2 separate regions of the Homo sapiens genome follow, and region 2 is linked to region 1. Evidence: fine-mapped expression QTL. Tissue or cell type: cerebellum. Region 1 holds a variant in brackets; the other region holds the start of a gene. All regions are shown on one strand. Distances are from middle to middle.

Region 1 (8,000 bases):
TGTGGCCTTGTGATAAAATGTGGGAAATCACAGAAAACACCAGAAACAACAACTGCCAGCCCGGCCTGGCCACAGGTGAGGTCTGTGATTTCCGAGCACGCTCCACCTTGCACTCAACTTGGCCTTTTGATTGCACAAGCCTTTGTTTTCAGTCCTAGTGAATAAAGTTGTGTTTTCTGGAGCGTCTGTCTCATCTGTTGAAAAAAATCCACTTCTAGAGCAGGATGCTGGAGTTTGAGAGACTCAGCAAGGCCCAGAACCCTCAGCAGGTGTGTGGCTACCATTCCTCCATGGCCCATGGCTGCCTCCCTAAGGAGGCACATGGGAACCCTAGGTGGTGTCAACTTCCCTCCACAAATCTCAAAAGCCTTTTTGGACTCACCCTGGGGCAAAAGGCATGAAAAACAGTATTTGACTGGGCGTGGTGGCTCACACCTGTGATCCCAGCACTTTGGGAGGCTGAGGTGGGCAGATCACCTGAGGTCAGGAGTTTGAGACCAGCCTAACACGGAGAAACCCCGTCTCTACTAAAAATACAAAATTAGCCGGGCGTGGTGGTGGGCGCCTGTAATTCCAGCCATTTGGGAGGCTCAGGCAGGAAAATCGCTTGAGGTGGAGGTTGTGCCATCGCACTCCCGCCTGGGAAACGAGCAAAACTCCGTCTCAAAAAAAAAAAAAAAAAATCACGGGCAGAAATGGAGAAGGCAATCCCAAGAGATGAAAAGTCACTGGTAACGAGCTTCCGTTTTCATGTCTGTACCCTTTTCCAAGATTGCCTGTGGATCAGCCAGACCTCTGGGGTGCCAGAATAGGAAAATAAAGACACTTGAGAGAAAACCGAATCAACTCACTACCTTTCTTTATTGCTAAGCACTTCAATAGACACAGCGCCCACCTTACCGCTAGGCCCTCCGGATTGAGGTTTACTTAGGTTCAAAACTTGCAGCCGGCTCGCGACGAAACCTGAAAGTCAGCGCCAAAATACAGACATTAAGTCCCCACTCCTTCGTTTCGGGCAACACCTGTTTCCACTCTCAGCTCCCCGTCAGGAGTGCGCACCCTCAAGCCTCAGTCTTGCTAAATAATCAGACTGCACGTGCAGTTTTCATACGAGGTGTCAGAAGTCAAAGCAATTCATCACAGACTGGGAGAATAAGGGAACCCAAGCCCGGCCCAGTCTTACCTGCAGGTAGCTGAGGGCCTGAGATTCGGGAAGAAACCTTTAAACGCTAAGGGACAAAGTGGTGCGTAGGCCAGGCCTGGACGCCCAGGGACCTGGCCGGCCTGCAGCGTTCGGACGGCCCTCAAAGCCACGCTCGTGGCTCAGTTCGTCCCAAGATCGTAGCACATGGCGAACGTATTAACAAACCTCTTCCCCCTCGGACTCGACCCCGAAAAGACAGGGGCGGGCGAGGCTCAAGCTTTTATAGAAACTGTCCCACCTCTGTCATTGGGCTATCCTGGCGGAAGTGCCCGCCTTCCCCCGCCGCTGGTACGCTCCGCTCCCTGCCGCGTTGTTTCCACCAATCGTACCGTGGCATTTCTTTTGGAGACGGTCTCTCAGACCCAGACCCGAAGCTCCTCCCTTATGCAGAGTCCGTGAAGCCTAACGGTGAGTGACGGATGAACAAAGCCAATCAGACTTCGATCTGCAACATAGAGTGATTCTGAAGCTGCCATTCCCGCCCCGCGACGACGAGGCCGCCGGAAGTCGTAGTTTCGGAAGTGCGGCGCGTGAGGCAGCCGTCCGGGCCCGGAGAGGCGGGGAACTACACGTCCCGGCGGGCGCAGCGGCCTGGCGCTTCCGGCTCGCGCGTCTAGTCCCTTTCCCGGCCGGCGGCCGAGGGGGCATCATGAAGCGGGCTGGCGGCGCTGCCGCTCCCGGGCGGCCGCGGGCGGGTGAGTGTCCCCGCGGCGCGCCCGACCCGGGGCTCGCGCCTCGGGACCGCGCGGTGGGGCGGGATCGGGCGCGTGGAGATCGAGGCGAGGCGAGGCGAGGCGAGGGGTCGGGCCGGGGCGGGGAGGGGGGGGCGGGGCTGAGACGGTCGGGGTCGGGGTCAGGGTCGGGGTCCGCGTCGCTGTCCGTCCGCCAGTCAGTAGTCCGTCCCTCGCTCCGTCCTGTTCTCGCGCAGTTCTTTACTCATTCCTTCTTCCTGCATTCCCCGAGACTCCCGGGTGCCAGGCACTGTTCTGGGCGCCGGGAGACCGCGGAGAACACGGTCCCAGTTCTCCTGTGCTCGGCGTCTGCTGCAGGGTTCCCCAACCTCCGCACCATCGACCACGCGGCCCGGGTCGCTTTTTGCTGCGAGGAGCTGCCCTGTACATTGTAGGATGTGGAACAGCTTGCCTGGCTCCTGGCCGCTAGATACCAGTAAACACCACCCCTTCCTCAATTGCGATAACAAATGTCTCCATGCATTGGCAAATGCCTCCTGCGGAACAACTCCCCCCATCCCCCATCTAGACAGACAGGGTGGTGGGATTGACAATAGGTAGTTAAAATCATGGGGAGCAGCGGTATGTGCTGTGAAAGAAAGAAAGAGGGTGCTGAAAAAGTGAGTACTGGCCGGGGGTAGGGGCGGCGCTACCGTTAGCCAAAGGCCTGTTGGAGAAGCAGCCAGTCCCAGGACATGCAGGAGGAGCATTCCAAGTAGAAAGAGCCAGATGTACATAGGCCTGGGGTGAGAAGGGGCCTGACGCACCCCAGCAAGCACTGGCAAGTGGAGAGGTGAAGTCGATGAGGCCGGACCAGGCTCACAGGGTGCATGGTGGGGTGGGGCGGGGGGGTTATTATGCTGGCAAATGACTTGGGGTTGAGGAAGCGCTGGAGAGGCGGTCCGATCTAGGTCCAGTAAAGAGCTTTCTAACTGTGTGTGGACCACAGACTTCAGAGTTCACTGGGGAAGCAGGAGAGAGGGAGGCTAGGCCATCGTCTCCTAGTCCCCACTGGGGTCCTGCTGTCAAGATACGGTTGTCTTGAGCCAGGCCAGAGTGGTCAGCTGGGGTTGAGTCTGGAGTCCAGGGGCAGGGGCCTGCTGGAGCCCACCCTGCTCTTGGGGGTGAGGGGCTGCTGGCTTGCTCAGGAATTTCATGCCGCCCAGCCTGTCTGCCCACCTTTCTCACTACCCCTCAGACCCCTTCCTGGGCACACACAGGCCCCCTAGCCCTCGCCAAGTGAGGAGCCTCCCTCTTCCTCATTCCTTCTCTTTGGGCCTCTCCCTTCCTAGACCCCTTCCCTGTGCCTCTCTGTTGCGAATATCCTGACTTCACTGTTCTGGGCATTCATAGTTCTCTGTGGAAGCCTCGGGCCCCGTGTCCTGAGGGGGAGCAGTGGTATGGGCAGCCTGGCCTAAGGAGGGGAGGGGCTGGGAGTCAGCACCCCAACCTGACGCCCCAACCTGAGGGTCTCTGGTGAAGTGACTTCCACCGTGGCCCACTGGGGCCAAGTGTTACGATATTTCTGGAAGTGAATGGAAAAGTTCAGGGTCTTTGGCACCCACCGAAAAGTGCCTTTGGCAGATTGAGTGGCGATTGGTGGGGCTCCTGCCCCTCTGTCTGCCTGTGTCCCCCACAAGGCTCCTAGCTCCTCCCGGGTCAGATTCGTGTTCAGCCGTCACACATCCCCACCCTCCCGCATGGGGCCTGGCACCCCGTGGTTGGTGTGACTCTCGGCCAGCTGGTTGGACAAGGAATGAGCAGTTTGGGGAAAGGAGGAAGATGCAGTTGAAGAGCCTCCTGGCCAGGAGGCCTGGGCAGCCTGGCTCTGGGATGCAGCCACTCCCCGGCTTGGCATGGGACTGGCTCAGGCGCTGCCGGGGCTCCTGGATGTGTGGCAGCCGTGGACGAAGCAGAAGGAATGTGACTCTGGTCACAGCGGCACAGCCTGCTGGCTGTGTCCCTGGGCCGGCCTCTCCGCCTTCCTCAGCCTCCATGGTCCACTCAGCAGAGGAGCTGCTGTCTGGGGTGCCTTCACTCTTGACGGATCCATCTTCTCTCGGCTCCTTCCAGACAGGGTTCTGGCTCTATTCCGTTTTTCGAGAAGCCCGAGGCCAGGAGGGCAGGTACACAGCTGTGAAGTGGTAGAAGTGGACTTTGAACCCAGCTCTGTCTGAGCCCAGTGCCTGTGGCCTTGACCACGGTGTCACAGCATCTCCTGGATGGACACCCTGCGGGGTCAGGGAGGGCATGTGGGGAGGGCCGAGAGCTGTTGGCTGCGTGTGTCTCAGTCCGGCCTTCTCAGTGGGTGGGCACCGAGGACTTCACCAGGCCCTCTGTGTGGATCATGCGGGGGGAACCTGTGGAGAGGGACCCACCAACCCCTTAGTCTTTGACAGATCCGCTGCTGTCCCCAGCCTTGCTCCCTGGAGGAGGAGGGTGCAGCCAGGTGGGGCAGGTGAAAGGGGAAAGCGGGCACTGGAGGCTGGGGCTGGTCACGTGTAGACCCGGACACCCTCACCCGGCTGGAGGAAGCCGGCTGCCTGGAAACTCGGGGTGGAGGTGACCCAACCCCAGAAGCACCCAGGTGGGAAGTAGGGGGCAGCGACGCAGAGGGCCAGGACTGAGGGCCGTGGGACGGTGTGGGAAAGGAGGTGGCAGTGCGGTGGCACGCTGGCATGAGGGCGCTGGGTGACTGAGGGGGTCAGTGGTCTCTGCCCTCACATTCCTGTTGCCTCTTCGGGCCCATGTATGGCCAGTGTTTATGTCAGCTCCCTGCTGCTGCAGGGCAGAAGGAAGGAGGGAGCCCGGGAGACCGAGCCACACAGGAAGCAAATGAGAACACAGCGTGGGACTGGGAAGCGTGGGCTCGGCGGGGGGGGGGGGGACACTGCCACCCTTGGCTCTTGGGCAAAGCTCACGACCTGTTTCTGAGAGTCTGAGGCCCACTTGACTTGGGTGAGAGCCAGGAACGCACTCCCCAGCCCAGAGCT[G/A]TGAAGCTGGGGTCTCTTCCTGTGCCCCAGGATACTCTCCCCACTCTGGATCCCAGCAGCCTCATCCTCCAGGAAGCCCTCTGGACTTCCCCTCGACTGGGCCAGGTCCCCACACAATAGACAGCCATGAGATACAGGGGAAAAAAGGACTGAGAGATGTTGCCAGCCCCCAAGGGGTCGGAGGGGCAGCAAAAGGCATCCTTACTGTGAAGTTGGGGTAAAGCCTTGGCCGAGCTGTGGGGACCCCCTCCCTGGAGCAGAGGGAGATACGGACGCTGGAGAGGCTTGGCCAGGGCAAGACAGGCCTGGAGGCTGAGTGGATGCAGTAGGAGCAGAGCTGGGGGAGGAGTTCAGAGGCCTCTGCAGAGCTGGGGCTGTGGGTGTTGGGGGCAGGGACAGGCAAGGGGGTTCGCCGTGCTAGGAGGGAAGCGGGGCCAAGCCGGCCTCAGACCAGGGCCTGCTGGGGTTCTGAGGGGATCCTAAGGACCAAGGCTGGCAGAGGCCGGGGCACCCCAGGAGCCTTCGACGTCACACCCTGCCTATTTGGGATGGAAAAAACGTTCTAAGGGACGTCAGGGAACAGCGGCGGAAGTGCGTGTGGCTTTGCTATGGCAACCAGGCCTGTTTCTATAGAATTTAGCGGCCTGGGCTTGGGCCAGGGGGCTGAGGCAGGGGCTGGGCTGGGGCGGGCAGTCTGTGGGTGCCCTGGGCAGGCTCTGTGATGCCAGGGGCCACGCTCGGAGCTCTGGCCGCAGTCCAGCCAGCCGGCCACACACAGCCCTGTGGCAGGCGGGGCGGAGGCTTCTGGAGCCGTCCCAGGCTCCTCCCAGGGCAGTTGCAGGCCTCACAGGCACACCCACCCATGGCTTGCGCCCCACACATGTTCAGGGGACCCCCACACCCCACCTGCTCCGGGTTGCTGGAGGAGCTGCTTTAAGGCCGGGCCTGGCCCGAGCAGGGAGCTGCATCTGGAAGCCCCCATCTCCCCCACTCAGCAGGGCCCCCCAGGCTGCTGCCAAGTGGGCGGGGACCCCTGACCCAGACCCCCTCCAGGTGTGTCTCCAGGGAAAGGGGTGGGTGTCCGCATCCCACATGCCCCCAGGGCGATGCCCCAGCAGAGCCCTCTAAGCCCAGCTTGTGGGAGCTAGGGAGGGGCTCCTGAGGGATTTGCCGAAGAGGGGCTGGGGTGGAGGCAGCGAGGCGCTGAGGAAGACTTCCACTTCCTTATTGCACAGTGGGTGCCCCCAGGGCCCCGGAATCCCTCCTACGTGAATGTGGGGTGGACAAAGACCCTGGGCCTGAATCCCAGATTCAGGCGAGGTCAGGGAGGGGCTGCCCTGCGTTGGCCCCAGCTGGAGGGGACGGTGGGGGGCCAATCCTGCCCTTCCCCTCTGCACGGTGCTGACCCACGCACCTCGCCCCTGAAGGTCAGCACTGGCCTTCCCCAGGGTGGATGCTGCGCTTCCTCAATGACTTTTCTCTTTCAAAGATCGAATACTCCTGGAGCATCCAGCATGGGCAGTGTGGACGGGCAGGTGGTGTGGACGGGCAGGTGGTGTGGACAGGCAGGCGGTGTGGATGGGCGGGCGGTGTGGACGGGCGGGAGGTGTGGACCGGCGGGCGGTGTGGGTGGGCGGGAGGTGCTCGGGCAGGCGGTGTGGATGGGCGGGCGGTGTGGGTGGGCGGGCGGTGCTCGGGCAGGCGTGGTGGGGACATGGAAGGGAGGGGTAGGGGGGCTGATGGGGAAAGCCCTTTCTCAGCCACTAGCTGCCCCCATGGCTTTTCCCGGTTTGGGAAGAGTCTCTCATTCTATGGAACACACCCCCACTTCCCCAGCACTGGGAACTGGAGGGCAGAGAGGCCAGAGAATTGAAGGGGAATTCTCACTCCGGTTGACAACTTCCTGCCCGGCCACCCCCCAGCCTCGATGACTGTGGGGTGGGGAAAGAGGCACTCTCCCTCTGGGGGGCCAGGGCATGCCCCCAGAAAAGCCTCCCAGCCATCAGGGGATGCTGAGCTATTGTGCTTTCCAGTTGTGGCCCAAGGGGTCCTCTCCCTACTGGGGAAACTTACTGCAAAACCCAGTCCCTGGGGACTGGGCTGAGGGGAGGCCTCGGGCATCTTGCTCAATTCCGAGGTGCGGGGATGGATCCTGCCTTAGGGCGGGACACAAACGTTCCCTGGCCTCCAGCCCCAGGGTCCCGCCCGCCTCCATGTCCCTGGCTGGGGCTGAACACTGAACCCGAGTGAACTGGGAAGCAGCCTCCTGTGCAGAGTATCCCCCTCCTTCCCTCCCTCCTTCCGTCCCCCTCCCTCCCTCCGTCCCCCTGCTTCCCTCTGCCCCCTCCCTCCCTCCGTCCCCTCCCTCCTTCCGTCCCCCTCAGCTGGCGCTCGATGGGGTCTTGCGCACACCCCACAGATCCTGTGGTGTTGTCCCCGTGGCCCGGCTGCTGTTGGCCAGCTGGGACTTTCTGGCTGATTTGCACATTGCCCTGCGTGCCTTTCTGTTCACCTCACTTCAGAGTGAGGGGGAAGCCAGACAGTTGCTCTCCCAGACTGTGAGCAACAGGCACTGAGGCCAGCCCGACCCATCCCAGGGGAGTGCCTGCTGGGGTCCTGGCCACCTGGGCCCCCGGGCAGGCATCACTGGCAGGGCTTGCAGCTGGCCCTGGGGCCCCGGAAGCTTGCAGTACAGGGAGCTGATGGGTTTGTAAAATGCAGGTCAGTGTCTCCTAGTGGCTGCCCGGTGATCCCCTCCCTGCTCCCAGAGGGCAGGAGCCAACCTGGGGCTCCCAAAAGGGCTGAACCTCCTGTGCCGAGTCATGGCGCCCTGCACTTCAGGCTATCAGGGCCTTACCCCAGCTGGGACATCCTCACCCCAAGCACAATGGCAAAAGGCAAGCCCTGGCCAGCTCTCCCCGACCTTCCTGCCGGGAGCTGCTGGAGACGGGATAGACATGTGCCAGGGCAGAGCAGCCTTGTAGACACACCACGACCACACCTCTGTCCCAGGGCTGACTCCTCTGAGCCTGGCTGCAGGTGTGTGGCACTGCCCACACTCAGGAGCCCCTG
Region 2 (8,000 bases), 48 kb after region 1:
TCATGGCGGAAGGCGAAGCGGAAGCAAGGCACCTTCTCCGCAAGGCGGCAGGAAGGAGAAGTGGAGCAAAGGAGGAGGAACCCCTTATAAAACCATCAGATCTCTTGAGATCTCACTCACTATCATGAGAACGGCATGGGGGAACCTGCCCTCATGATTCAGTTACCTCCACCTGGTCTCTCCTTTGACACATGGGGATTATGGGGATTACAATTCAAGACGAGATTTGGGTGGGGACACAAAGCCTAATGGTATCACATGGAGAGGAGATGGAAGCCACAGGATGGGCCAGGGCCAGGGCCAGGCCCAGGAGTCTGGAGAGGGACAGGGACCCCTGAGGGCTTCTAATGGGGTGATCAAGTCATTCCTAGGTTTTGCTGGGGGTTTTTGTTTTGTTTTGAGAAAAGGTCTTGCTCTGTCACCCAGCCTGGAGTGCAGTGGCTCAACCACAGCTTACTGCAGCCTCGAGTTCCTGGCCTCGAGTGATCCTTCCACCTCAGCCTCCCAAAGCTGGGACCACAGGCACGCACCACCATTCCTGACTAATTTTTAAATTTTTTGTAGAGATGGGGTATCACTATATTGTTCAGGATGGTCTTGAACTTCTGGGCTCGAGTGATCCTCCTGCCTCAGCCTTCGAAAGTGCTGGGATTACAGGCATGAATCACTGTGCTGGGCTCAGACTGAGGTTTTTAAAAGGCCACTCTGGCCGGGCGCGATGGCTCACGCCTGTAAACCTAGCACTTTGAGAAGCTGAGGTGGGTGGGTCACTTGAGGTTAGGAATTCAAGACCAGCCTGACCAACATGGAGAAACCCTGTCTCTACTAAAAATACAAAATTAGCTGGGATGGTGGTGCATGCCTGTAATCCCAGCTACTCAGGAGACTGAGGAACCCAGGAGGTGGAGGTTGCAGCGAGTCGAGATCGCGCCATTGCACTCCAGCCTGGGCAACAAGAGTGAAAATCCGTCTCAAAAATAAATAAATAAATAAATAAATAAATAAATAAATAAATAAAAGGCCATTCTGCACTGTGGTGGACAGTTTGGAAGGGGGCCAGAGTGGCTGGGGCAAGGAAGGAGGCTTTTATGGGGGATGGGGGTGGTGAGCTAGAACCAGGGCAGTGGAAAGGACAGGAAGGTATATCACAGGTAAAATCGGTGGCTGAAGGGAAGGGAAGGGTGAGGGAGGGGAGGTGTCGGATCTTGCCCAGCTGTAATACAAGGTGGGCACTGCCCACAGAAGGGGAGCTACTCAGGGATGGGTTGTCTTGGCCCTGGAATATGGTGGACCCTGCGGGGCATTCAAGGGACAGTGTCTTAACAGGGAGCTGAGGCCATCAGAGCTGGAGACAGGGTGGAAGGGGCCCAGGACAGGGACAGCATTGGAAGCTCCAGAGCTAGCAGTCATCAGCCCCCTGGTATCTCGTGGGGTGCACAGAGTGAATGCTGAAGGGCCTGAGTCCTTGCGGGCAGGCAGGGAAAGAGACTAAATGTCGGGGACAGGAGCTAGGAGAAGGCAGCCTTTCAGGCATGGTGCCGTCAACCATGGCTCAGATGCGTCAAGAAGTGGGAGGGGGCCGGGCGCAGTGGCTCACGCCTGTAATCCCAGCACTTTGGGAGGCTGAGGGGGGCGGATCACGAGGTCACGAGATCAAGACCATCCACCATCCTGGCCAACATGGTGAAAAGTCTGTCTCTACTAAAAATAGAAAAATTAACTGGGTGTGGTGGCATGCACCTGTAATCCCAGCTACCCGGGAGGCTGAGGCAGGAGAATAGCTTGAACCCGGGAGGTGGAGATTGTGGAGAGCCGAGATCGCACCACTGCACTCCAGCCTGGCAACAAAGCGAGACTCCGTCTCAATAAAAAAAAAAAAAAAAAGAAAGAAGAAGTGGGAAGAGGCCGGGCGCAGTGGCTCACGCCTGTAATCCCAGCACTTTGGGAGGCTGAGGTAGGCGGATCACTTGAGGTCAGGAGTTTGAGACCAGCCTTGCGAACATGGTGAAATCCCGTCTCCACTAAAAATACAAAAATCAGCCAGGTGTGGTGGTGCGTGCCTGTAATCCCAGCTACTCGGGAGGCTGAGGCAGGAAAATCGCTTGAACCTGGGAGGCAGAGGTTTTGCAGTGAGTCGAGATTGCACCACTGCACTCCAGCCTGGGCGAGAAAGCGAGACTCTGTCTCGAGAGAAAAAAAAAAAAAAGGTGGGAAGAAGGAAAAGTATCCACTGGATTTAGCAAAGTGAGATTGTCAGTGACCTTGAGGAATTTCCACTGGAGAGCTAGAGAGCTGGGGGTAAAAGGCAGATGACTGGGGTTGCGGAATGAGTGGGAGGTGAGGACGTGGAACTAGAAAAATGGTGAGGACCGCTCTTTGAAGAAGATAATTTGGGATTGTTTTATGGTGTTTTTTTAAAGGCTAACCGGCAGGAAGGAGAGGAGGTGAAGGTATAGGAAGGAAGGCTCCATGGGAACTATGGCCTGGTCAAGGGACAAGATGCACCCCCTCTGCGGCCAGAGGAAGGGGTGCAGCCAGGTCTGTAAGAGCAGCAGGAAAAAACCATGCGACAGCCTGTCTCAAGGGTGAGGGCACCGGCGTGGAGCTCACAGAGCTGGAATGAGGGCCTGTGGTTTTGAGGGGGACCCTGGGCTCAGTGGGATGTCCTGAGGGTCAGGCTGGGGCTGGGGTGCCAGATCTAGCAAGTAAAACTACAGGATACCCAATAAAATTTTTTTAGCATAAGTATTTCCCATGCAATGTCCTGGATATACTTACACTAAAAAAAAAATTATTCGTTACTTGTCTGAATTCAAGTCCTGTAATTTTCAGCCAATCCTAGCCCAGCGTGGCGCAGTAGTGGGTCAGGGAGGGCACCGGAACAGCGCGACCCGACAGCCCGGGAAACGGACAGCCGTGTCAGAAGGGCAGGTGCCAGTGGGCAGGAGGCCGGAGAGAAAGCCGCAGCTTCCTTCCACCTCGCGCCGGGCCCGCGGCCGCGCACGGGGACCGCTCCGAGTTCCTCCCGGCGGGAACCCCCCGCCCCAGAACTTTGGTCTCGTCCCACCCACCCCCGCCCGCGCCATGGTCTCGCCCTAGGGAGCCATCGATAACTCTACGCTCGGCCTCGATCGACTCGCTCCGGCTCCCCTCGCCGTCCTGGACACGGCGGAGTGCGGAGCCGCCCGTAAGGTACGGAGGCCGCGAGCCAGGGGCCGGGAACCGGCTGCTGGGTGGCTGGGAGAGCACGGCCAGGGGAAGCCGGCCAGCAGGACGGAGCAAGGGCGGTCACCGGAGGAAAGGGGAGCTCGGGGGTCCAGCCAGACTGCGCCCTTTCCCATCAGGGCCTGCCGCTGGCCTGCTACGCATGCGCAGCCGCAGCGCTCGGCTTTCCCCGGCCCATCCGCCGCCTTGCGCACGCGCAGCCCGCCCCTGCGGCAGAGTGGCGCCCGCGCGTGACTCCCCCCTGCCGGCTGCGGAGGTGGGGGGGGGACGGCGCCCCCGCCGTGTGCGTGGGGCGGGGATGGAGCACGCGCCCTGGAGCCCCGGAGCCAGGTATCACGCGTGTGACGCGTGTCCCTGAACCTACCTGCGCTTCTTGTCCCAACTCTAAAATGGGAATGATAAGCGCCATTCGGCAGCGCCTTGTGGGTCTATAATCTACTTAGCACAGAGAGTGTCTTCTAAGTACTTCACATCCTTCTCTGCAGATGCTCTGACCTTTGACCCCTGCCGTTCAGCTCTAGGGCCCGTGCAGGCCACACCATGAACACCTCCCCAGGCACGGTGGGCAGTGACCCGGTCATCCTGGCCACTGCAGGCTACGACCACACCGTGCGCTTCTGGCAGGCCCACAGCGGCATCTGCACCCGGACGGTGCAGCACCAGGACTCCGTATCCTCCACCCGGGGCGGGCAGGGCGGCGCTGGGGGGATGCCTCGTGTGGGGACCACAGCCTGTGTGAAGGCCAGATGGTGGAGGCCTGGGGGGCCCTGGCCTCAGGGCTACCTTCCCGTCATCCTCCTTAACAGTCCCAGCAGGTGAATGCCTTGGAGGTCACACCGGACCGCAGCATGATTGCTGCTGCAGGTATCTGTGATCCTTGATCTCTAAACTCCTGAGCTCTGGTGGGTCGACCTCAGCACAGCCAAGCTTCAGTTCAGCCTGTGTCCCTAGGTTACCAGCACATCCGCATGTATGATCTCAACTCCAATAACCCTAACCCCATCATCAGCTACGACGGCGTCAACAAGAACATCGCGTCTGTGGGCTTCCACGAAGACGGCCGCTGGATGTACACGGGCGGCGAGGACTGCACAGCCAGGATCTGGGACCTCAGGTGCGGTGGGGAGGGGGCGTGCTGCCCGGGGCTGGGGTGGGCTGCTCTGGGAGACCGTTTTAGGTTGGGTTCTCTTCAAGCAGAGGCTGAGACAGGGAGCTTCCTGTGGGCGACTTACTGAGAGAAGTGAGGACAGGAGGAGAGTGAATTGCATCAGAGCGCGAGTCCTGCCTTGAGCCCGGAGCCAGCTTGTTATTCCCCTTCCACCAGCCACTGGCTTAGGCTCCCTGCTGGAGCAGAGGGCCCTGCGTCCCAAGTATTTCCCAAGAGGCAGGTCCTTCAGCAGAGGGAGGGGAGGAATGGCCAGGCCGAGGCCATCTGGGTAGGGCACCAACAAGCCCAGATGGACAGCATGTGCCCCGGCCCGGCCCGCAGGTCCCGGAACCTGCAGTGCCAGCGGATCTTCCAGGTGAACGCACCCATTAACTGCGTGTGCCTGCACCCCAACCAGGTGAGGGGTGCTCATGGGGCCAGGCACCCTGGGACTTTGGAGGGCTGGGCTTGGGCCCTGCCTCACCACCCCTGCACCCCAGGCAGAGCTCATCGTGGGTGACCAGAGCGGGGCTATCCACATCTGGGACTTGAAAACAGACCACAACGAGCAGCTGATCCCTGAGCCCGAGGTCTCCATCACGTCCGCCCACATCGATCCCGACGCCAGCTACATGGCAGCTGTCAATAGCACCGTGAGTCCTGGTGGCAGGTGCTGGGTGCGGGCAGCTTGGCACTCAGCCCTCAGCCTCTGCAGGTGGGCTTATTCCTGGATGTCCCTTAGCGGCCCCCTCCTGCTTTCCCCATCCCGGGCACTAACACCCACCTTGCCAGCAAAGCCAGAAGCCTTAGTGTCGCTCCCGATGGCTTAGTCCTGTCTGCAGGTCGGTCACTCCGCTTTCTGGAGTCTCTCCCAAGTCGATCCACTTCCCTCTTTTCACTCTGTTGCCTCCTGGTCCCAGTCACCCTTGTTTCTGGTGACGGCTGACACACTCTCTGAGGCTTCCTTTCCCCCTCCCTGACCTCCCCTGGCCCCTGACACGTTCTCTCTTGGATGCTTCTAGTGGTGCCTGGTCAGTATCAGCCAGGTGGCGTCATTCCCCTGAGGAGACCCGGGGCTGCTGGCCTCGCCCGTAGGCTGCTGTGGCGTGGCCCCTGCTCTTCTCTCCAGCCTCATTTTTTTTCATTAACTTCATTTAATCCCAGTGCATCACTTGTACCTCTTGCCCCCGGATTTCCCTTCTGCTGGCCTTTGTCATGCTGTCTCTCTAGCTGGTGCCCTTCTCCTGTCTACTTCCGTTGGCCATCGGCATCCTCCAGGAAGGAGAATTTGAGTCCTTGGCCAGGCGTGGCCTCCTGTTCTTGGCTTGCCAGGTGTGGCCCTTGCTTGGGGCCAGGCTTCCCAGGTGCCTTCTGCAGGCAGGACCAGAGGGGCCTGCCTGCCCCTCACCCGGGGTCCCCATGCACAGTTGGCCCCCAGTGTTGGCCCCCAGGGCATCCTTCCCTGTGTCTCAGACCTGAGGCCTTGGGCCCTCCGTGACGGTCCTCCTGACCTCTAGGGAAACTGCTATGTCTGGAATCTGACGGGGGGCATTGGTGACGAGGTGACCCAGCTCATCCCCAAGACTAAGATCCCTGCCCACACGCGCTACGCCCTGCAGTGTCGCTTCAGCCCCGACTCCACGTGCGTGCAGGGCCTGCTGGCCCGGGAGGGGACCTGCCTGGGCTGGGGGCTGGAGAGGGGAGGGGCTGCTGGATGGAGTGGCTGCTGCTGGACACGCCCCATGCCCACCCACTAGGCTCCTCGCCACCTGCTCGGCTGATCAGACGTGCAAGATCTGGAGGACGTCCAACTTCTCCCTGATGACGGAGCTGAGCATCAAGAGCGGCAACCCCGGGGAGTCCTCCCGCGGCTGGATGTGGGGCTGCGCCTTCTCGGGGGACTCCCAGTACATCGTCACTGGTGAGCCCCGCCCTGGCCTCCCCCATCCCTGGCCCCCGGCGCTGGCCTCCAGAGCCAGCCCACCTCGGCTGCAGCTTCCCCTCTGCTGGGGCCGCCTGCTTGGCCTGCACCTGCGCTCTTAGCCCTGCACAATCTCCCCCTCCAGCTTCCTCGGACAACCTGGCCCGGCTCTGGTGTGTGGAGACTGGAGAGATCAAGAGAGAGTATGGCGGCCACCAGAAGGCTGTTGTCTGCCTGGCCTTCAATGACAGTGTGCTGGGCTAGCCTGTGACCCCTCGGGACTGCCTGGTGCAGGTGGTGGCAGCTGGAGGGACCCATGCAGCACCCAGGTCAGAGCAGACCCTCCCCTGCCGGCCTGCGCCAGCTGGACCTGATGGCCCCCTGTGGCGCCTTGACCTGCTGGGCCAGGCTGCCCTGGGACTCTCAGCCCCCAGTTGCTTATCCAGATGTGACAGAGCTCGACCCAAGCCAGGCTGCACACTCCTGGACTGGGCTAGCCTGCACTGCCTGGGAAAGTCGGCCGAGGGCCCAAAGCTGCTGAGGGGTCTGAGGCTGGTGCCCACCCCCAAGCTAGTGTGTTCTCTGCCCCTCCCTGCCCGCGTTTCAGGGCCTCGGTCCATAGAGAACACCACCACCATGGCCAGGTGGAAGGGTTTATTAGTCCCTGCCAGCAGCTGTCCTCCCTGGTGCAGGTGGCCTGGCCAGCCCACTGGATTGGGGACGGGCCAGGCTGGGCCAGGTCGGGGGCTCAGTCTGGGAGGTAATAAAAGCAGACCGACACGCAGATGTTGCTCGGGAAGCAGATGTCGATGCAGAGATAAATCAGCCGCTGTCTCCGGGGCCCTGTGGCGAGGGTGCCGTGAATCTCCAAGGGCTCCGCCCCCAGCTCCTCAAACCATCCCGAGGGCCTGGCCTTCCCCCACAGCGGTCCTGACTCACCCTCTGCTCGCCGGGCCCAGTAGATGGGGGTCCTCATGCACAGGCGCTGCACCAAAGCCCCCGCCTGGGCGGGGTCCACTTCGAGGCTCCCCTGCACTGCCAGCAGCTCCTGGGTGTGGTGGGTGTCCTGGCTGGGGACCCAAGCCTCTTGGACCTGTTGAGAAGGCTCTGGTGGGCGGTGGGACAGGGCTGCTCCCTGCTCCTGGCTTGGCAGGGCCGGGTACCCTCCAACCCCCAGTGATGTCCCCACCCTCAGCTCTTGTCAGCAGCCTGGGCTTAGGGCGGAGAGAGCTTCCTGTTCCCTGAAACCACAGCTCCAGCCTGTCCCGTACTGGGCTGCACACAGGACCCTTTGTCTAGCCCCTGGCCCGGGCCTGCGCCCAGCAGGACGGCTCACCTTGGAGGTATCCACCAGCAGCCGCAGGGTCTCCCGATCACTGTCCTCCATCAGGCGGAGGAAGCAGACCTGGTGCTCCTCAGGGCGGTAACAGATGCAGCCCTGGGGAGGCAGGGGGGTGAGGCGGGGCCCCCCAGACCGACACCTGCCAGGGTGACCCCTCCCTGCCCACTCACGCTCTGCCCGTCGAACAGCACCGCCCAGCTGTGGTTGCTCTGAGGTGGGGTCACTGTGATGGTCGCCGCGTTCCGGGCCACGTCCACCAGGATGGTTTGGTTGGGCCGGGGCATGTGGGGGCTCGGGAGGGTCATTCGCAGCGTCTGCAGCCTTGGCTGGCAGTGGGAGTTGGAGTTCAGCCGGGCAGCTGTGCA

What was found. PIP is the estimated chance that this variant, and not a neighbour inherited with it, causes the effect.
Region 2: MLST8 starts here. The variant in region 1 is fine-mapped to the expression of MLST8 in cerebellum (GTEx, PIP above 0.99).

Annotation. Positions count from the first base shown.
Region 1 is chr16:2,153,960-2,161,959 of GRCh38, forward strand. It overlaps RAB26 (RAB26, member RAS oncogene family), which reads left to right. Exons shown (of 9, transcript NM_014353.5): 9 at 1-206. TRAF7 (TNF receptor associated factor 7) reads left to right here and starts at 1,823. Exons shown (of 21, transcript NM_032271.3): 1 at 1,823-1,899. SNHG19 (small nucleolar RNA host gene 19) reads right to left here and starts at 1,399. Exons shown (of 2, transcript NR_132114.1): 1 at 1,184-1,399; 2 at 823-963. It overlaps SNORD60 (small nucleolar RNA, C/D box 60), which reads right to left and starts at 1,146; the gene lies at 1,064-1,146. RefSeq lists enhancers at 1,188-1,387, 2,258-2,357, 2,368-2,507, 2,431-3,012, 3,013-3,596 and 3 more and a silencer at 1,868-1,957. The variant G/A (reference allele first, on the strand shown) is at 4,929.
Region 2 is chr16:2,202,321-2,210,320 of GRCh38, forward strand. It overlaps MLST8 (MTOR associated protein MLST8), which reads left to right and starts at 3,134. Exons shown (of 9, transcript NM_022372.6): 1 at 3,134-3,192; 2 at 3,711-3,894; 3 at 4,038-4,089; 4 at 4,177-4,339; 5 at 4,715-4,790; 6 at 4,873-5,025; 7 at 5,890-6,014; 8 at 6,130-6,293; 9 at 6,439-7,133. The coding sequence starts at 3,766. The coding sequence ends at 6,557. It overlaps BRICD5 (BRICHOS domain containing 5), which reads right to left. Exons shown (of 6, transcript NM_182563.4): 3 at 7,806-7,961; 4 at 7,630-7,731; 5 at 7,233-7,386; 6 at 6,933-7,136. The coding sequence ends at 7,042. RefSeq lists enhancers at 2,109-2,949, 3,789-4,628, 4,629-5,467 and silencers at 3,042-3,691, 7,798-7,988.